2 separate regions of the Homo sapiens genome follow, and region 2 is linked to region 1. Evidence: fine-mapped expression QTL. Tissue or cell type: putamen. Region 1 holds a variant in brackets; the other region holds the start of a gene. All regions are shown on one strand. Distances are between the middles of the regions.

The links. PIP is the estimated chance that this variant, and not a neighbour inherited with it, causes the effect.
Region 2: FLT4 starts here. The variant in region 1 is fine-mapped to the expression of FLT4 in putamen (GTEx, PIP above 0.99).

What each region holds. Positions count from the first base shown.
Region 1 is chr5:180,615,516-180,623,618 of GRCh38, reverse strand. FLT4 (fms related receptor tyrosine kinase 4) reads left to right here. Exons shown (of 30, transcript NM_182925.5): 12 at 780-888; 13 at 1,715-2,077; 14 at 2,367-2,513; 15 at 2,612-2,743; 16 at 2,904-3,010; 17 at 3,311-3,446; 18 at 3,850-3,954; 19 at 4,253-4,366; 20 at 4,510-4,598; 21 at 4,699-4,849; 22 at 6,625-6,719; 23 at 7,130-7,252. Among named protein-coding and RNA genes, the nearest start is that of SCGB3A1, 28 kb to the right of the region's middle. RefSeq lists an enhancer at 2,589-3,788. The variant C/TAGGGTAACCC (reference allele first, on the strand shown) is at 4,919.
Region 2 is chr5:180,646,497-180,654,599 of GRCh38, reverse strand. It overlaps FLT4 (fms related receptor tyrosine kinase 4), which reads left to right and starts at 5,000. Exons shown (of 30, transcript NM_182925.5): 1 at 5,000-5,112. The coding sequence starts at 5,055.

The DNA of each region.
Region 1 (8,103 bases):
TGACCAGGTCTGCACAGAGGGCTGCTGAGCCGCTGGCGCAGCCTGGGGGCAACGCCGAGAAGGGGGTACTGAACAAAGGCACCTACTTCCTCCAGTCACTTCCTGTTTTCCTACACACCTCCAGAGCCTCTTCCTGTTCCAGTCCTGGACAGGAAGTGCCCAGCTGGGGGTGGGGTGGGGGTGGGGGTCTTTGGATGGTAGGCAGGGCCTGTGGCCCTCTCTCCTCCCCTGTGTCTCAGGCTTCCTACTCCCTGAGGCCTCAGTCCTTCTGGGAGCCATCCCCACCCCTCTCAATAACCCTGGGCCTCGGGATTGCTGCTGAGGACAGTTCTGGGCTGAGGAGGCCATCTCACGAGGATCTCAGCAAGCAGCGACTGGATTGGGCCTGACCCCATCCAGAAGTGACTGGCTTTTGCTGTGACCCAGGCTGAATTCTCACCCTGGCTTGCACTGACGCTGGTGCCCCCTCAACATAGCCACGGCCAGAGGTCTCTCTGGTCCTGCCAAAGGCTGCCCTCTGACGTCACTGCAGCCTAGGCCAGCAGTCCATACACTGTCCCTTGACTTTTCTGGGCAGCTACCTCTCTCTGCTGCCCAGGGGCCTTCTCTCCTCTGCCTCACTATCCCTGGTCCTGTGAGTTTTGGTCTTCTCCAGCCCAAAGCCTCAGTTTCCCCCATGATTGGGGGGGGTGGTGCACAGCGACCTCCTTGCAGAAAGACAGGGCCCAGGTTGGGAGAACTTGGGCAGGAAATGGATCCTTGTGCCTGTGCTCTCCCAGACTGTGAGCAAGCTGGTGATCCAGAATGCCAACGTGTCTGCCATGTACAAGTGTGTGGTCTCCAACAAGGTGGGCCAGGATGAGCGGCTCATCTACTTCTATGTGACCAGTGAGTGACCAGACCAGGGCGGGGAGGCCTGGGTACAGGGTCAGGAGGGGGCAGGTTTGGGCTCATTGAGTTTCTGGGGTCTTTGGGACACCCAGGAGAGAGATCCAAGGCCTACCGGTTGTAGACAGGAAAAATAGATTTAAGGGTCACCAGCATAGGGCCTGGGTGCTGGCGCACTGGGATGGAATGGCATCCTCTGTCCCCAACCCTGGGGCTCCTCCCTCAAGGATGCCCTTGGCTCACTGCAGCTCCTCCTAGCTATACCCACTCCCACCCTCCCCTTCCCAAGCCCTGAGACCTTGTGACTCGTGTGAATTTTGCTCTGGGGAGAAGCTCTGTGGTTTACTCAGATTTTCAAATGTGGTAGTGACCTCAGGAGAGCGGAGCCCAGGAGCAGACGTCACTGGGTCCCAGAATGTAGATCAGGGCACCAGCAGAGAGATGTAGATCAGGGCACCAGCAGAGAGATGGAGCCCAAAAGAACACCCGGGGGCTGGGGGGCCACAGGAGCCTGACCAGAAGTGACCAGAGAGACAAGAGGAAGTGGGCGCACGGCACTGGGAAAAGCCAGGGAACACGTTATTTCAGGCTGAGCATGGGGTGGGGCATGGCAAGCTTCAAGAGAGAATGAGGACTCAAGTCCCACTGAGGGTGACAAGGAACTCCTGATGACCTGGGCTTTTGGTGGGGCGGGGGGCAAGCAGTCCAGCTGGGGCCCCTCCAGGAGAGAGGGAGGGAGGGAGGCAGGAGGAGACCCCGGGGCGGCAGGTGGATGGGGGAGCAAACTCCCAGGGCAGTGCCACAGGGCTTCTTCCTCCCTCCACAGCCATCCCCGACGGCTTCACCATCGAATCCAAGCCATCCGAGGAGCTACTAGAGGGCCAGCCGGTGCTCCTGAGCTGCCAAGCCGACAGCTACAAGTACGAGCATCTGCGCTGGTACCGCCTCAACCTGTCCACGCTGCACGATGCGCACGGGAACCCGCTTCTGCTCGACTGCAAGAACGTGCATCTGTTCGCCACCCCTCTGGCCGCCAGCCTGGAGGAGGTGGCACCTGGGGCGCGCCACGCCACGCTCAGCCTGAGTATCCCCCGCGTCGCGCCCGAGCACGAGGGCCACTATGTGTGCGAAGTGCAAGACCGGCGCAGCCATGACAAGCACTGCCACAAGAAGTACCTGTCGGTGCAGGGTGAGGCTGGCCGCGGGGAGGGCGGGGACGCGCTCTCTTCTAGCAGTAGCTGCCTCTGCCTTTGCCCCGGCGTGGCTCGCCCCTGGGAGGTCTATTCACAGCCCTGGCCTGCAGGAGCTACCCCTCCTGACTATCCGCCGCCCCCTGCGGAGGCGCGCCGCGCTCCTGCCCGGCGCACAACCCCTAAGTCCAGCTTCCAGGGATCCTTTTCTACCTCTGCTCCCAGCCCAAAGAGGGTCCTCCTGCTAAGTGCAGCTCCACTTAGCTCCCTCTCGACCCCTGCCCCCAGCCCTGGAAGCCCCTCGGCTCACGCAGAACTTGACCGACCTCCTGGTGAACGTGAGCGACTCGCTGGAGATGCAGTGCTTGGTGGCCGGAGCGCACGCGCCCAGCATCGTGTGGTACAAAGACGAGAGGCTGCTGGAGGAAAAGTCTGGTAGGGAGGGTGGCCCTGGCGAAGGGCAGGTCCGGAGGCCCGCGAGGCCGACGATCCCAAACCCAGGTGGACCCGCACCTCCACCCCACCCCCTGCAGGAGTCGACTTGGCGGACTCCAACCAGAAGCTGAGCATCCAGCGCGTGCGCGAGGAGGATGCGGGACGCTATCTGTGCAGCGTGTGCAACGCCAAGGGCTGCGTCAACTCCTCCGCCAGCGTGGCCGTGGAAGGTCTGGCCTCAGGCTGCACCCCTCAACTCCCTTCCCGTCCCCAGTTAACGCTTTCTTGTGGCCACCTTGGGCAAGTCGTGGCCACCAGAAGGGGTGCTGCCTGCAGGTGCACGCTCTTACACACACACACACACACGCCGGCCCCTTTCTGCCCACGCAGGCTCCGAGGATAAGGGCAGCATGGAGATCGTGATCCTTGTCGGTACCGGCGTCATCGCTGTCTTCTTCTGGGTCCTCCTCCTCCTCATCTTCTGTAACATGAGGAGGGTGAGTGTCCCTCCCCGCTCCTGATGGAGTCTCTCTCAGGCCTTCCCCACCCTGGCCGCCCCTAAGATAAAGAATAAGGTGCCCGCCCTAGTTCACCTGGCAGCCTTGTTTCCTGGGAAGCCTCCCTGCCCTTCACGCTGGGCTCCAACCCCGCAGAGGTTGTCTGTCTTTTTTTCTGTCCCCTCCTTGACTGAGAACCCCGCAGGAAGTGCCATCTGTCCTGGGCAAAGTTCTGCCCAAGCCACAGTGGTATGGCCAAATCAGTGAGCTGCCCCACTCCTCCCTGTCCCCTCCCCGCAGCCGGCCCACGCAGACATCAAGACGGGCTACCTGTCCATCATCATGGACCCCGGGGAGGTGCCTCTGGAGGAGCAATGCGAATACCTGTCCTACGATGCCAGCCAGTGGGAATTCCCCCGAGAGCGGCTGCACCTGGGTGAGGCCAGCACCAGCCTGCCCAACCCACACCTCCTGCCCGACCCACCTGCTGCAGGCCGGAGTGCCTGAATCCCTCCATTTTCAAAACTTGCACCAGGAAGTTCCGCCTGGCCTGACCTGTCCCTGTGGGCGTGGGTACCTAGAACCTCAGCCAGGGTCCCCAGTTCCCAGGCTCCCTGAGGTCACCTGCTGCCACCCTGAGCAGGGTGTATCTGTCACACCTACCCGGGAGGATGCGCGGCCTCCTGTCCACCTCTCCTTGTCTTCCCGCTGTGGCTCCCCACGCTCCTCCTGCTGCCAGGCCTGTCCTCCTGGACCTCTGCACGGGGCTCCCCCGCCGCCCACCTGTCTCCACGCTCACCCCGTACAGCTCACCTGCAACTGGCCCCCTGCCCCGACAGGGAGAGTGCTCGGCTACGGCGCCTTCGGGAAGGTGGTGGAAGCCTCCGCTTTCGGCATCCACAAGGGCAGCAGCTGTGACACCGTGGCCGTGAAAATGCTGAAAGGTGTGGGGTCAGCGGGCGGAAGGGGCAGCCTAGCTGGTGAGGAGCAGCAGCTCGGGGTGGGCCGGTGGGACGGCAACTCGGGAAGGGAGACTGAGGCTGGAAGCCAGTCTCATCCGAGATTCTACAGGGAGGCTGCGGGCTTCAGAGCCGAGGGACCACCCGAACCCCCTCTGCCTCAGTGGGGCCGGCAGGATGTCCTGGGGGCCCTTAGTAACCCTCCCCCTCCCAAAAGCGCCGGGTGGCGGGGAACGGGGACCTGCCAGGGTCGGGGCCGGTGTGAGGCCCGTGTCCCCTCCAGAGGGCGCCACGGCCAGCGAGCACCGCGCGCTGATGTCGGAGCTCAAGATCCTCATTCACATCGGCAACCACCTCAACGTGGTCAACCTCCTCGGGGCGTGCACCAAGCCGCAGGGTACGGAGCGGGCGGCCCGCTGGGACGGCGAGACCCCGGGCGCGGGGCGCCGCGGGCGGGAGGGGGCGCGGGTGCAAACGCGGAGCGCGCCCGCAGCGCGCCCCGGGTTCCGAACGCACGGCCGCCGCCCGGTCCCGCCGCAGGCCCCCTCATGGTGATCGTGGAGTTCTGCAAGTACGGCAACCTCTCCAACTTCCTGCGCGCCAAGCGGGACGCCTTCAGCCCCTGCGCGGTGAGCGGGCGGCCTGCGGGGCGCCGCGGGCGGCGGGGGAATGGAGGCGCCTCTGCGGCGGACGACTGGGCGCCCTCGAGCCAGCTTCGTGCATCCGCAGGAGAAGTCTCCCGAGCAGCGCGGACGCTTCCGCGCCATGGTGGAGCTCGCCAGGCTGGATCGGAGGCGGCCGGGGAGCAGCGACAGGGTCCTCTTCGCGCGGTTCTCGAAGACCGAGGGCGGAGCGAGGCGGGCTTCTCCAGACCAAGAAGGTGAGAGCCTGGCCTCTTCCCTTTTCCTAGTGCCTGACGGGCCCGGTTATATCCCGTGATCAGGCACCC[C/TAGGGTAACCC]AGCCTGGGGTCCTCAGCGGGGGCTTTCATGGGAGAGTGTGGAATGGGCTCTGCCTTAGGAAGGGAAGACACCTCGGGGACAATTTTCACACAGATGTTTTACGATTGACTGGGTCATCAGAGGCTGAATAGGAAATTGCCCTGCAGACAAGGCAGGCAGTGGAGGGCCAAGCAGCAGGTGCCCGGCCCCCACAGAGCAACAGTATTTACTGCTCTGGGAGTAGGACGTGGGTGTCCCAGAGGCTGAGGGGCAGGAGAGGGTCCTCTGGAGTAGGACGTGGGTGTCCCAGAGGCTGAGGAGCAGGAGAGGGTGCTCTGGAGTAGGATGTGGGTGTCCCAGAGGCTGAGGGGCAGGAGAGGGTGCTCTGGGAGTAGGACGTGGGTGTCCCAGAGGCTGAGGGGCAGGAGAGGGTGCTCTGGAGTAGGACGTGGGTGTCCCAGAGGCTGAGGGGCAGGAGAGGGTGCTCTGGGAGTAGGACGTGGGTGTCCCAGAGGCTGAGGGGCAGGAGAGGGTGCTCTGGAATAGGATGTGGGTGTCCCAGAGGCTGAGGGGCAGGAGAGGGTGCTCTGGAATAGGATGTGGGTGTCCCAGAGGCTGAGGGGCAGGAGAGGGTGCTCTGGGAGTAGGACGTGGGTGTCCCAGAGGCTGAGGGGCAGGAGAGGGTGCTCTGGAGTAGGATGTGGGTGTCCCAGAGGCTGAGTGGCAGGAGAGGGTACTCTGGAATAGGATGTGGGTGTCCCAGAGGCTGAGGGGCAGGAGAGGGTGCTCTGGGAGTAGGACGTGGGTGTCCCAGAGGCTGAGTGGCAGGAGAGGGTGCTCTGGAATAGGACGTGGGTGTCCCAGAGGTTGAGGGGCAGGAGAGGGTGCTCTGGGAGTAGGACGTGGGTGTCCCAGAGGCTGAGGGGCAGGAGAGGGTGCTCTGGAATAGGACGTGGGTGTACCAGAGGCTGAGGGGCAGGAGAGGGTGCTCTGGAGTAGGACGTGGGTGTCCCAGAGGCTGAGGGGCAGGAGAGGGTGCTCTGGAGTAGGACGTGGGTGTCCCAGAGGCTGAGGGGCAGGAGAGGGTGCTCTGGAATAGGACGTGGGTGTCCCAGAGGCTGAGGGGCAGGAGAGGGTGCTCTGGAGTAGGACGTGGGTGTCCCAGAGGCTGAGGGGCAGGAGAGGGTGCTCTGGAGTAGGACGTGGGTGTCCCAGAGGCTGAGGGGCAGGAGAGGGTGCTCTGGAGTAGGACGTGGGTGTCCCAGAGGCTGAGGGGCAGGAGAGGGTGCTCTGGAGTAGGATGTGGGTGTCCCAGAGGCTGAGGGGCAGGAGAGGGTGCTCTGGAGTAGGACGTGGGTGTCCCAGAGTCTGAGGGGCAGGAGAGGGTGCTCTGGAGTAGGACGTGGGTGTCCCAGAGTCTGAGGGGCAGGAGAGGGTGCTCTGGAGTAGGACGTGTGTGTCCCAGAGGCTGAGGGGCAGGAGAGGGTGCTCTGGAGTAGGACGTGGGTGTCCCAGAGGCTGAGGGGCAGGAGAGGGTGCTCTGGAGTAGGATGTGGGTGTCCCAGAGGCTGAGGGGCAGGAGAGGGTGCTCTGGAGTAGGATGTGGGTGTCCCAGAGTCTGAGGGGCAGGAGAGGGGCTGACATGCTTGTTAGCTGTTCCCTGGGGCTGGGTAGATGGAGGCCGCGGAGGAGGCGCCTCCTGAGCCCACCTGGCTCCACTGTGTAGCTGAGGACCTGTGGCTGAGCCCGCTGACCATGGAAGATCTTGTCTGCTACAGCTTCCAGGTGGCCAGAGGGATGGAGTTCCTGGCTTCCCGAAAGGTGAGCTTCCCCCGAAGGCCCTTCAGACGGGAAAAGGGTGCATCCCCACCAGTCGCCAAGAAGTGCTTGGTACTGGCCTCACCCTGCAATGGCTCTGTGGTCCATCAGTGTCTCTCCCACTTTGCAGAGGAGGAAACTCTGCCCAAAGCATGGAGTTGACCTCCCAAGGTCTCTTGGCTGGTCAGCAGCAGAGTCTGTTTGACTCCACAACTTTCTCTGCTGTCCCCACAATTCCACAAGCTCTCTCCATGATGAGTCCTGGAGATGGATGGGAATCCTTCCCCAAAGGAGCACAGTTCAGGCAGGGCATCCCCATGGTCCCCACTGCTTGGGCACCCTGGAGTTTCGGGTGTGGGTATTACCCCAGGGGCCTGCACTGACAGCCCCCCTGCCGCCTCCCCGCACCCCAGTGCATCCACAGAGACCTGGCTGCTCGGAACATTCTGCTGTCGGAAAGCGACGTGGTGAAGATCTGTGACTTTGGCCTTGCCCGGGACATCTACAAAGACCCCGACTACGTCCGCAAGGGCAGTGTGAGTGCAGGCCATTGAGGAGAGGGAACGTGGGGCGGAACAGGTGAAGGGGTGGGACCACAGACTGCCTGTCCAGGAGAGGGAGGGCTGGCACAGGGTGAGGTGAGCTCCTTGGTTGGCCAGCCATGTGCCCAGCTGCTGGTGGACCTCCTGCCCCCAGGGGACCCTACTGACCACCCCCCACCTTAGGCATCTTGGGGCAAGGAAGTGGAGAAGGGAGGTGACCGGCAGGCCCAGTGCTCCGAAAGGAAGTGGAGAAGGGAGGTGACCGGCAGGCCCAGTGCTCCGAAAGGAAGTGGAGAAGGGAGGTGACCGGCAGGCCCAGTGCTCCGAAAGGAAGTGGAGAAGGGAGGTGACCGGCAGGCCCAGTGCTCCGAAAGGAAGTGGAGAAGGGAGGTGACCGGCGGGGCCCAGTGCTCCGAAAGGAAGTGGAGAAGGGAGGTGACCGGCGGGGCCCAGTGCTCCGAAAGGAAGTGGAGAAGGGAGGTGACCGGCAGGCCCAGTGCTCCGAAAGGAAGTGGAGAAGGGAGGTGACCGGCAGGCCCAGTGCTCCGAAAGGAAGTGGAGAAGGGAGGTGACCGGCGGGGCCCAGTGCTCCGAAAGGAAGTGGAGAAGGGAGGTGACCGGCGGGCCCAGTGCTCCGAAAGGAAGTGGATTTCGGAAGTGGAGAAGGGAGGTGACCGGCAGGCCCAGTGCTCCGAAAGGAAGTGGAGAAGGGAGGTGACCGGCGGGCCCAGTGCTCCGAAAGGAAGTGGAGAAGGGAGGTGACCAGCGGGACCCAGTGCTCCGAAAGGAAGTGGAGAAGGGAGGTGACCGGCGGGCCCAGTGCTCCGAAAGGAAGTGGAGAAGGG
Region 2 (8,103 bases), 31 kb before region 1:
ATAAAGTATCAAAGAACTGAGAATCGCCAGATCTCCACATCCAGACAATGATGCTGGACCGTTCATTCATCATGACTGCTTCCTTGCCCCTCCTTAGTTTTTGTTTTGTTACACATTGTTTCATTTCTTCCTTGCTATGTAAAGCCCTGGTTTTAGTTGGTCAGGGAGATGGATTTGTCAGCCACAGCACCTGATTAAAACGTTCCTCCTTGACAATACTTGTCTCCTCTGTCATTGGCTTTCTGTATGGTGGGCGGCCGGACCTAGACGGAACCTGTGATGTTTTGGTGACAGTATCAGTACAAAAATAGACAAAGCTGAGAAAATGAACCATTCCGTGTAGATCGTTAATGTATGACTGAGGGGGAGCTAGAGAAAAGTGTAGAAAGCATGACCTTCTCATCATGGTCATGAGATAGCAAGATACCTTTTTTTTTTTTTTTTTTGAGACGGACTCTCACTCCGTGACCCAGGCTGGAGTGCAGTGGTGCAATCTCTGCTCACTGCAAGCTCCGCCTCCCAGGTTCACGCCATCCTCCTGCCTCAGCCTCCCGAGTAGCTGGGACTACAGGCCTCCGCCACCACACCTAGCTAACTTTTTTGTATTTTTTGGTAGAGACGGGGTTTCACCATGTTCGCTAGGATGGTCTCGATCTCCTGACCTCGTGATCTGCCCACCTCGGCCTCCCAGAGTGCTGGGATTACAGGCGTGAGCCACAGCGCCCGGCCAGTAGCAAGATATCTTTACGGGGTGAAAGACAGAAACTCGACACATGCACCTACTTTACGCTACACAGAGAAGGCAATTCCAGGGCCCGCAGGTCTAAATATGAAAGAGAAAATAAAACATTAAAATTTATAAGTGATAAAAAATAGTAAATATCTTCATGACATCAAGATAAAGGTTTCTTTAAAAGAACACAAGGCCGGGCGCAGTGGCTCACGCCTGTAATCCCAGCACTTTGGGAGGCCGAGGTGGGCGGATCACCTGAGGTCAAGAGTTCATGACCAGCCTGGCCAACATGACGAAACCCCATCTCTACTAAAAATACAAAATTTAGCCAGGCATGGTGGCACACGCATGTAGTCCCAGCTACTCGGGAGGCTGAGGCAGGAGAATCGCTTGAACCCGGGAGGCGGAGGTTGCAGTGAACCGAGATCTTGCCACTGCACTCCAGCCTGGGCAACAGAGCACGGCTCCATCGCAAACAAAAAATAATAGTAATAAAATAATGAGATAACACAAGTAACACCAGCCATAAGGAAACCAATTTGTAAGCGTGCTGTGTTAAAATGAAAATCTTCTGTCTTCATCCTGCCTCCCAAAAAGAGAGCATTACGGAAGTGAAAATTCAGACCCCGAATGAGAGGAGATGTGTAGCACAATGTACCCAAGTTCCTTTTCCACAGATGGCCTTGGCAGTGTCTGCCATCCCACATGCTCTTCTGCATGTGACCTTGCCTCTCTCTAATAATTGTGGGGAACATGTCCCCTAGGCAGGCTGTGACTTCTTCGAGACTATCTAGTTTCCACCTAGTTCTCTTGGATAGTCACTCTGGGGAAGCCACCTGCTACACAAGAACTTCAACTAATGTGGGATTGTCATGCTGGAAAGACACCGAATGGGCGCACTGGTTGGCAGCCCCAGCTGAGCTTCTGGACAACAGCCAGCACCGACCACCAGGCATCCAACCCAGCTAAGTAAGCCCTTGTCAAATTCCTGACTCTCAAAAGCATGAGCAAAACGAAATAGCTGCTGCTTTGCCCCACAACATCTTGGAGTACTTCATTATACAGCAATAATAAAGGAACTGATAAAAGACTCATATGCAGAATATATAAAGAACTACAAATCAATAAGAAAAAGACAGATGGGGAGTCGTAAAGAGCAAAAGACTTGAAATCTAAATGGCCAATTATAAAAATGTGCTCAACCGCAATGGTAATTAAGGAAAAGCTAATAGATCAGGCATGGTGGCTCACCTCCGTTAATCCCAGCACTTCGGGTGACTGAGGCGGGTGGATTACCCGAGGTCAGGAGTTTGAGGCCAGCATGGCTAACATGGTGAAATCCCGTCTCCACTAAAAATACAAAAATTAGCTGGGCATGGTGGCGTATGCCTGTAATCCCAGCTTCTCCAGGGGCTGAGGCAGGAGAATTGCTTGAACCTGGGAGGTGGAAGTTGCAGCGAGCCAGGATCGCGCCATTGCACTCCAGCCTGGGAACAGAGCAAGGCTCTGTCTCAAAAAAAAAAAAAAAAAAAAAAAATAGCTAATGAAACCGCAATGAGATGCCAATGCAAACCAACTAGAATGGCCACATTTTAAAAACCAAAACTGACAATACTGTGGGTAAAGGTGTGCGGCAGCGGTAACTGCTTACGCTGCCATGATCATGCAAAATGGTACAAATCACTTGAAAAAATACTTGGCACTGGCTACCAAAGTTGAAGACAGCATGTGTACACCAGGAAACACATACAAGAGTGTTGTGGCAAAAGTTGGAAACTGGTAACCACTCAAACTTCCATTAATAGTAGATGGACAAATTGTGGTGTATCCTACTGTGGAAAACTATGCAGTTACGAAAATGAGCAAAGTATAGATCATCACAGCAATATAGATGAATCTCACTAATGGTGTTGAGCAAAAGAATATAAATGGTATGAAGGCACTGAGATAAAGTGGAAAAAAAAAACAACAAGCAAAATGTGAGCTAAACTGTAGGGACACAAACACACAGAGAGGAGTAATAGACACTGGAGACTCCAAAAGCAGGGAGGGAGGGCAAGAGGTAAGGACTGAAAAATCACCTTTTGGGTAGAGTGTCCACTGTACAGGTGACGCGTACACTAAAAGCCCAGACTTCACCTGTACACAATATATGAATTAAGAAATCTGCACTTATGTCCTCTAAGTATACTTTAAAATTTTAAAAGCACATTCTGGCTGGATGCGGCGGCTCATCCCTGTCATCCCAGCATTCTGGGAGGCTGAGGCAGGTGGATCACTTGAGCCCAGGAGTTCAAGACCAGCTTGGGCAACGTGGCGAAAACCCAGCTATGCAAAAAAGTCACTGGGTGTGGTGGCGCACATCTGTGGTCCCAGCTACTTGGGAGGCTGAGGTGGGAGGATCATTTGAGCCCGGGGGGTGCTGAGGCTGCGGTGAGCAGATATCATGTCACTGCACTCCAGCCTGGGTGACAAAGTGAGACCCTGTCTAAAACAACAACAACAACAAAAAAAAAACAAGTATATTCTGGGCGGGGCACAGTGGCTCATGCCTATAATCCCAGCACTTTGGGAGGCTGAGGTTGGCAGATCAGGAAGTCAGGAGTTTGAGACCAGCCTGGTCAACATGGTTAAACCCCCATCTCTACTAAAAATACAAAAATTAGCCGGGCATGGTGCCGGGTGCCTGGAATCACAGCTACTCAGGAGGCTGAGGCGGGAGAATTGCTTGACCCCAGGAGGCAGAGGTTGCATTGCAGTGCAGTGAGATCGTCCCACTGCACTCCAGCCTGGGCAACAAAAGAGAGACTTTGAGAAAAAAAAAAAAAAGTACATTCTGAAAAAAAAAGCAAAACATATATTTTGATGATAAAATGATAAACAAAAGCAGGGAAATGATAATGCCAGGGTAGTGGGCATCTTCTGGGGTTGGTGAGGGGTTTGTGATGGGAAGTGAGGGGATGTGGGGATGTCATTCTACATCCCTTGGCCTGGAGAATGGAAACACAGGTATTTGTTGCTTTAAAATTCAGGTTTATAATATGCTGATATATTATGTACTTTCCATAAGTGTGTTACATCTCATAATCTTTCAAAGCTAAAAAAAATCAATATATGATTGATAAATACCTAACTTCATGTATCGCTTGGTTACCTAGTTTCCCCAACCTTATTTGTTAAATTATCTACACTATCCGCACTGATTTGTGATTCCAGCTTAATAATATAGCCACTTCTTACCTGGATTGGAGAGAGCTGGTAGTGGTTATTGAAAATCTACTCTTGCTTTTTGGCGAGGATGAAAGGGCTTTGGGGGGCGGGGGTGGGGGGATGGAAAATGTGAATGAAACGAAAAGCAGGGAAGGAGGTTGAGACAGTCATGGTCATGGGCTTCATTATTAAACAGGAAAATTCTAGAGACAAACTGAAAAGAGAACGGAAGTCTGTAAGAGGGTTGCCAAGTCAGAAAGCAAAAGCAAAGTGTCGCTTTATTAAAAAGGTGGGGGCGGGTCCTGATTGAGCTGAGAACAAAACATCTGGGGGAGTTCTAAAGCTAGGAGGCCAGGCCTGCAGGGAGGGGGTCGGTCATCCCGGGTGTCCCGCTCACGGGTGCGGCTTCCGTCGACACTGTCCGTCGACACTGTGCAGGTAAACACTGCTGAACGGGTTTTGTTTTTGCTTTTTTTTTTTTTTTTTTGGCTCCCAGACTGGAGTGCAGTGGCGCGATCTCGGCTCACTGCAACCTCCTTCTCCCGGGTTCAAGCGATTCTCCTGCCTCAGCCCCCCCGAGAAGCTGGGATTACAGGCGCGCACAACCAAGCTCGGCGTATTATTTTATTTATTTGCTTGTTTATTTTTGAGACTGGGTCTCCCTATGTTACGCCGGCTGGTGCCACTATTTTCAAAGATGTAACATACTATTTTTACAAGGATTGCTTTCTTGTTTAGTCTAGATTTTACCGATGGAAAGAAAGGACGGAAAAGAGCGCGTGCCGCATTTTGCTCCCCTTTGCCCACCAGGCTCCATCACCTCCGGAGCGCATCGCGAGACCGTCTGCGTTACCCGCGTCCCCGCGCCCGGAGCCGCCCAGGAGGGGGCCCGGACCCTGTGGTGCGGAGCGCGCACTGCTCGGGTGCACCGGACGCCCCGCGGCGGGCTGGGAGGGACGGGGGGAGGGGGGCGCGGGGAGCGGCCTGAATCCCGGGCCCGCCTCCGGCCCCCGCCCCGCCCCGCCCCGCCCCAGGCCAGCCGGCGCCCGCGCGGACACTTTCAGCCCCGAGCCGCGGCCGCTCGGGTCGGACCCACGCGCAGCGGCCGGAGATGCAGCGGGGCGCCGCGCTGTGCCTGCGACTGTGGCTCTGCCTGGGACTCCTGGACGGTGAGCGCGGCGAACGGGCCACCCGCCCGAGCGTGGGGCTGGCCGGGGAGGGGGTACCGCGCACCTGGGGCGGGCGCTGAGACCGCTCCGCCGGGTACGGGCGGGGGACACGGTGGCCCTGGTGCGCGGACGCCTGAGGGGAGCACGGCGCTTGGGGCGCGGGACCTCGGGATGAGGAAGGGGCGGGCGGGGACCGCAGCCGGGTCAGGGCCAGGGCGGCCGGGCCGCGCCTCGGCGCAGGGGTAGCTCTCCCGGCCCCTGAATCCGCGTCTCCGTCGGTGGCTCCGCGTCCTCGGAGCCGGGCCCTGCCGGGCTGCGCGCTGAGCCCGGATCCTTCGCGCCCTTACTCGCTTCCCCGCGGGGTCCCCGCGCCGCGCCGTCCCGACCCACGCGCGCCGGAGATCCATCCCGGCCGGGCCCCGGACTTGGGTGCGCACTTCCCGACGCCCAGCGCCTCCGCTCGCGGTCGGTCCCCCAGAGGGCGCTCGAGGCGGGCTTCCCCCTCCCCGTGGCCGGCGACGGCGGGGACAGGGGCCGGGGACCACCGCGCGCCCGAGGCGGACGGGTGCAGGTGCACGCTGGCACTTGAGACGAATCTTGAGGAGGCGAATCGCGGGCTGTCAGCGCCGCAGAAGGGGCGGAAGGCCAGGGGTCCCCGGATTTGAGGGGACAGGGGCCTCGAAGGCCAGCTGAGGAGCAGAGGCCCCCGCGGGAGGGTCCCCTGCACAGGAGAGGCGGGGTTCGGTTTGTGTTGGGATGTGGCTCTGGCGGGGAGAGACGCAGACCTGAAGCGGAGGCGGAGGGGTTGGAAAGAGGGACTGTGGGGGATGAGCGGGCGGCAGAGGGAGTGGATGGAGATGTCAGGGAGGAAGCTGAGAAGATGAGCTGGGAGTCCCCACGGAGCTGGTGTCCCTGGAAATCAAAGGGTGTAAGGGCGGGGTCAGGGGTTCCAGTGTCTGAAGCCCTGAAGTCAGCGACGGGGACCTCAACATTTCTGCACGCCATAGGAATTAAATACTGGCTTTACATGCTTGTAATTCTCACAGGGAGTGTCAGACCCATTTTACACATGGAGAAGCTTAGACCAAGGACATGTGTCACTTCCCCAAGGTCCCCAGGAGGCCCAAAGTAAGCCTGACAAAGCCTGCCTTTGCTCACCACCTGTATGTCCACTGGCTGAAGGGCAGAGGACAGGAGAGGGGGCAGGTCTGGCTCAACCAGGGGAGGAGGGAGGAGAACATCTATCTGGGCCTCCGAGTCGGGCAGGCCAGATCAGGGCGCTGCCCTTGGCCCTCCTGGACCCAGCCCAGGACCAGGCTCCCACAGGTGCTCAGGATGTATTTGTCGAGTGGCTGGTAGACCTTGGTTGGACTGCAGGGCTGTAGAATGGGAGACGCTTATCCTGGAGGAGACATGGGACAGGCACCTGGGCGCAGTGTCTGAGCTGGGCTGAGTAGCTGGAGAGGAAGAGAGAGACCCGGGAGGGGAACCCTGGAGGAGGGGCCCAGAGGGCAAGGGGGCTTCCAGGGATCCAGGGAACATTCTGCAGGTATAAGGAGAACCAGGAGAGGCCAGTGTCCTGGTGCTCCCGGGTGGAGCACAGAGGGACGTGGGGTGAAGGGTGAGGAAGCTATTCCCTGCAGTAAGTAGTGACTCTTAGTGACCCAGTTATGAAGAGGAGAGAGGGCATTAGTTGGGCGCCCCATGGAGAGGGGTGTCCTGGGCTGGACCTGGGTTTGGCTGGTGGGGAGATGGCAATGAAGACAGAGGTCATCCCTCCGTGAGCCCTGCACCTTGCTGTACCCCCTGCTAGGCTGAAGACCCCGGGAGCCCCCAGCTTGATGGGGGATGCCATGGCGGAAGCACAAGCCCTCAGCTGCAGTCGGGTGTCAGGGCAGCTGGTCCGGTGGGAGCTGCAGTCGGGTGTCAGGGCAGCTGGTCCGGTGGGAGCAGGCCAGAAGCCTGAGCATCCTGAAGCTGACCCCTTAAAAGTGTGCTATTGATCATAGAACCAGACTCTTGTCCTGCCTCTGCCGTAAAGTCCTTTCTGTGTGACCTGGGCCCCCTCCTTTCCCCTCCCTGCACCTCAGTTTCCCCAAGCATAGCCATGGCACAAGCATAGCCATGGCACAAGCATAGCCATGGCACAAGCTGGCAAGCCCCGAGGTTGTGTGGGTTGTGTGTGCTTGGGCTGGACTCCAAGACCCAGATGCCTGCTGCAGTTCCACAGTCTTGCCCCAGTGGAGAGGGTAGGTCACAGATGTCTCTTGGGGCTTAGTCTAGAGAGAGGCCATTGGCACCTCTGCACTGTGGCTACCAGCTCAGGGACATGCAGGAGCAGGGTCTGCTGGGCATCTGGAGTGGCCTGGTCTCAGGACGTTTGCCCTTGCTGTGACCTGGGTCACAAAGGCCCAGATGTGGACAGATGTGTGGCCCAGGGATGCAAGTCACTGCAGGCAGGATGTGGGGATCAGGCCCACTTTACTTGGGCCTGGGGACCTTCTGCTCCAGCTCAGGGCTCTGAGGACTCGAATGCAGGTGCTGTTCCCTCATCCACCAGGCCTATGGCACAGAGCCAGTGTGGCTGAAGGAGTCCTGAGCCCTCCCAGAGCATAGGGCCCACATGGCTGGGCCCAGACAGGGTACGAGGTGTGATGTGTGGTCTGTCTGGCGAATTCTTCACTGTAACCCCCAGCAGTGGCACCCCGACCCAGGGAAGGAGCCTGCAGTTCTATGCAAGACCCCAGCATAGTGCCTGTTCGGGGTGGCCCAGGGAGGACTTGGACCTGGCCCCATCGCACAGGGGTTTCCTGTGCCTTGCAGGGACACAGACATGCCATCAGACGTGTATTGCCCAGGGATGAAAGTGTTCAGGGGCCCTGGTGAGGCCCAGCTGGTGGCTGTAAGCTGCACAGGAAGGCAGTGTCACTTCCAGCTAAGGGCTTCCTGGTGGGGTCTGCAGAACTCCAGGACAGGGAATTCCAAGCAGAG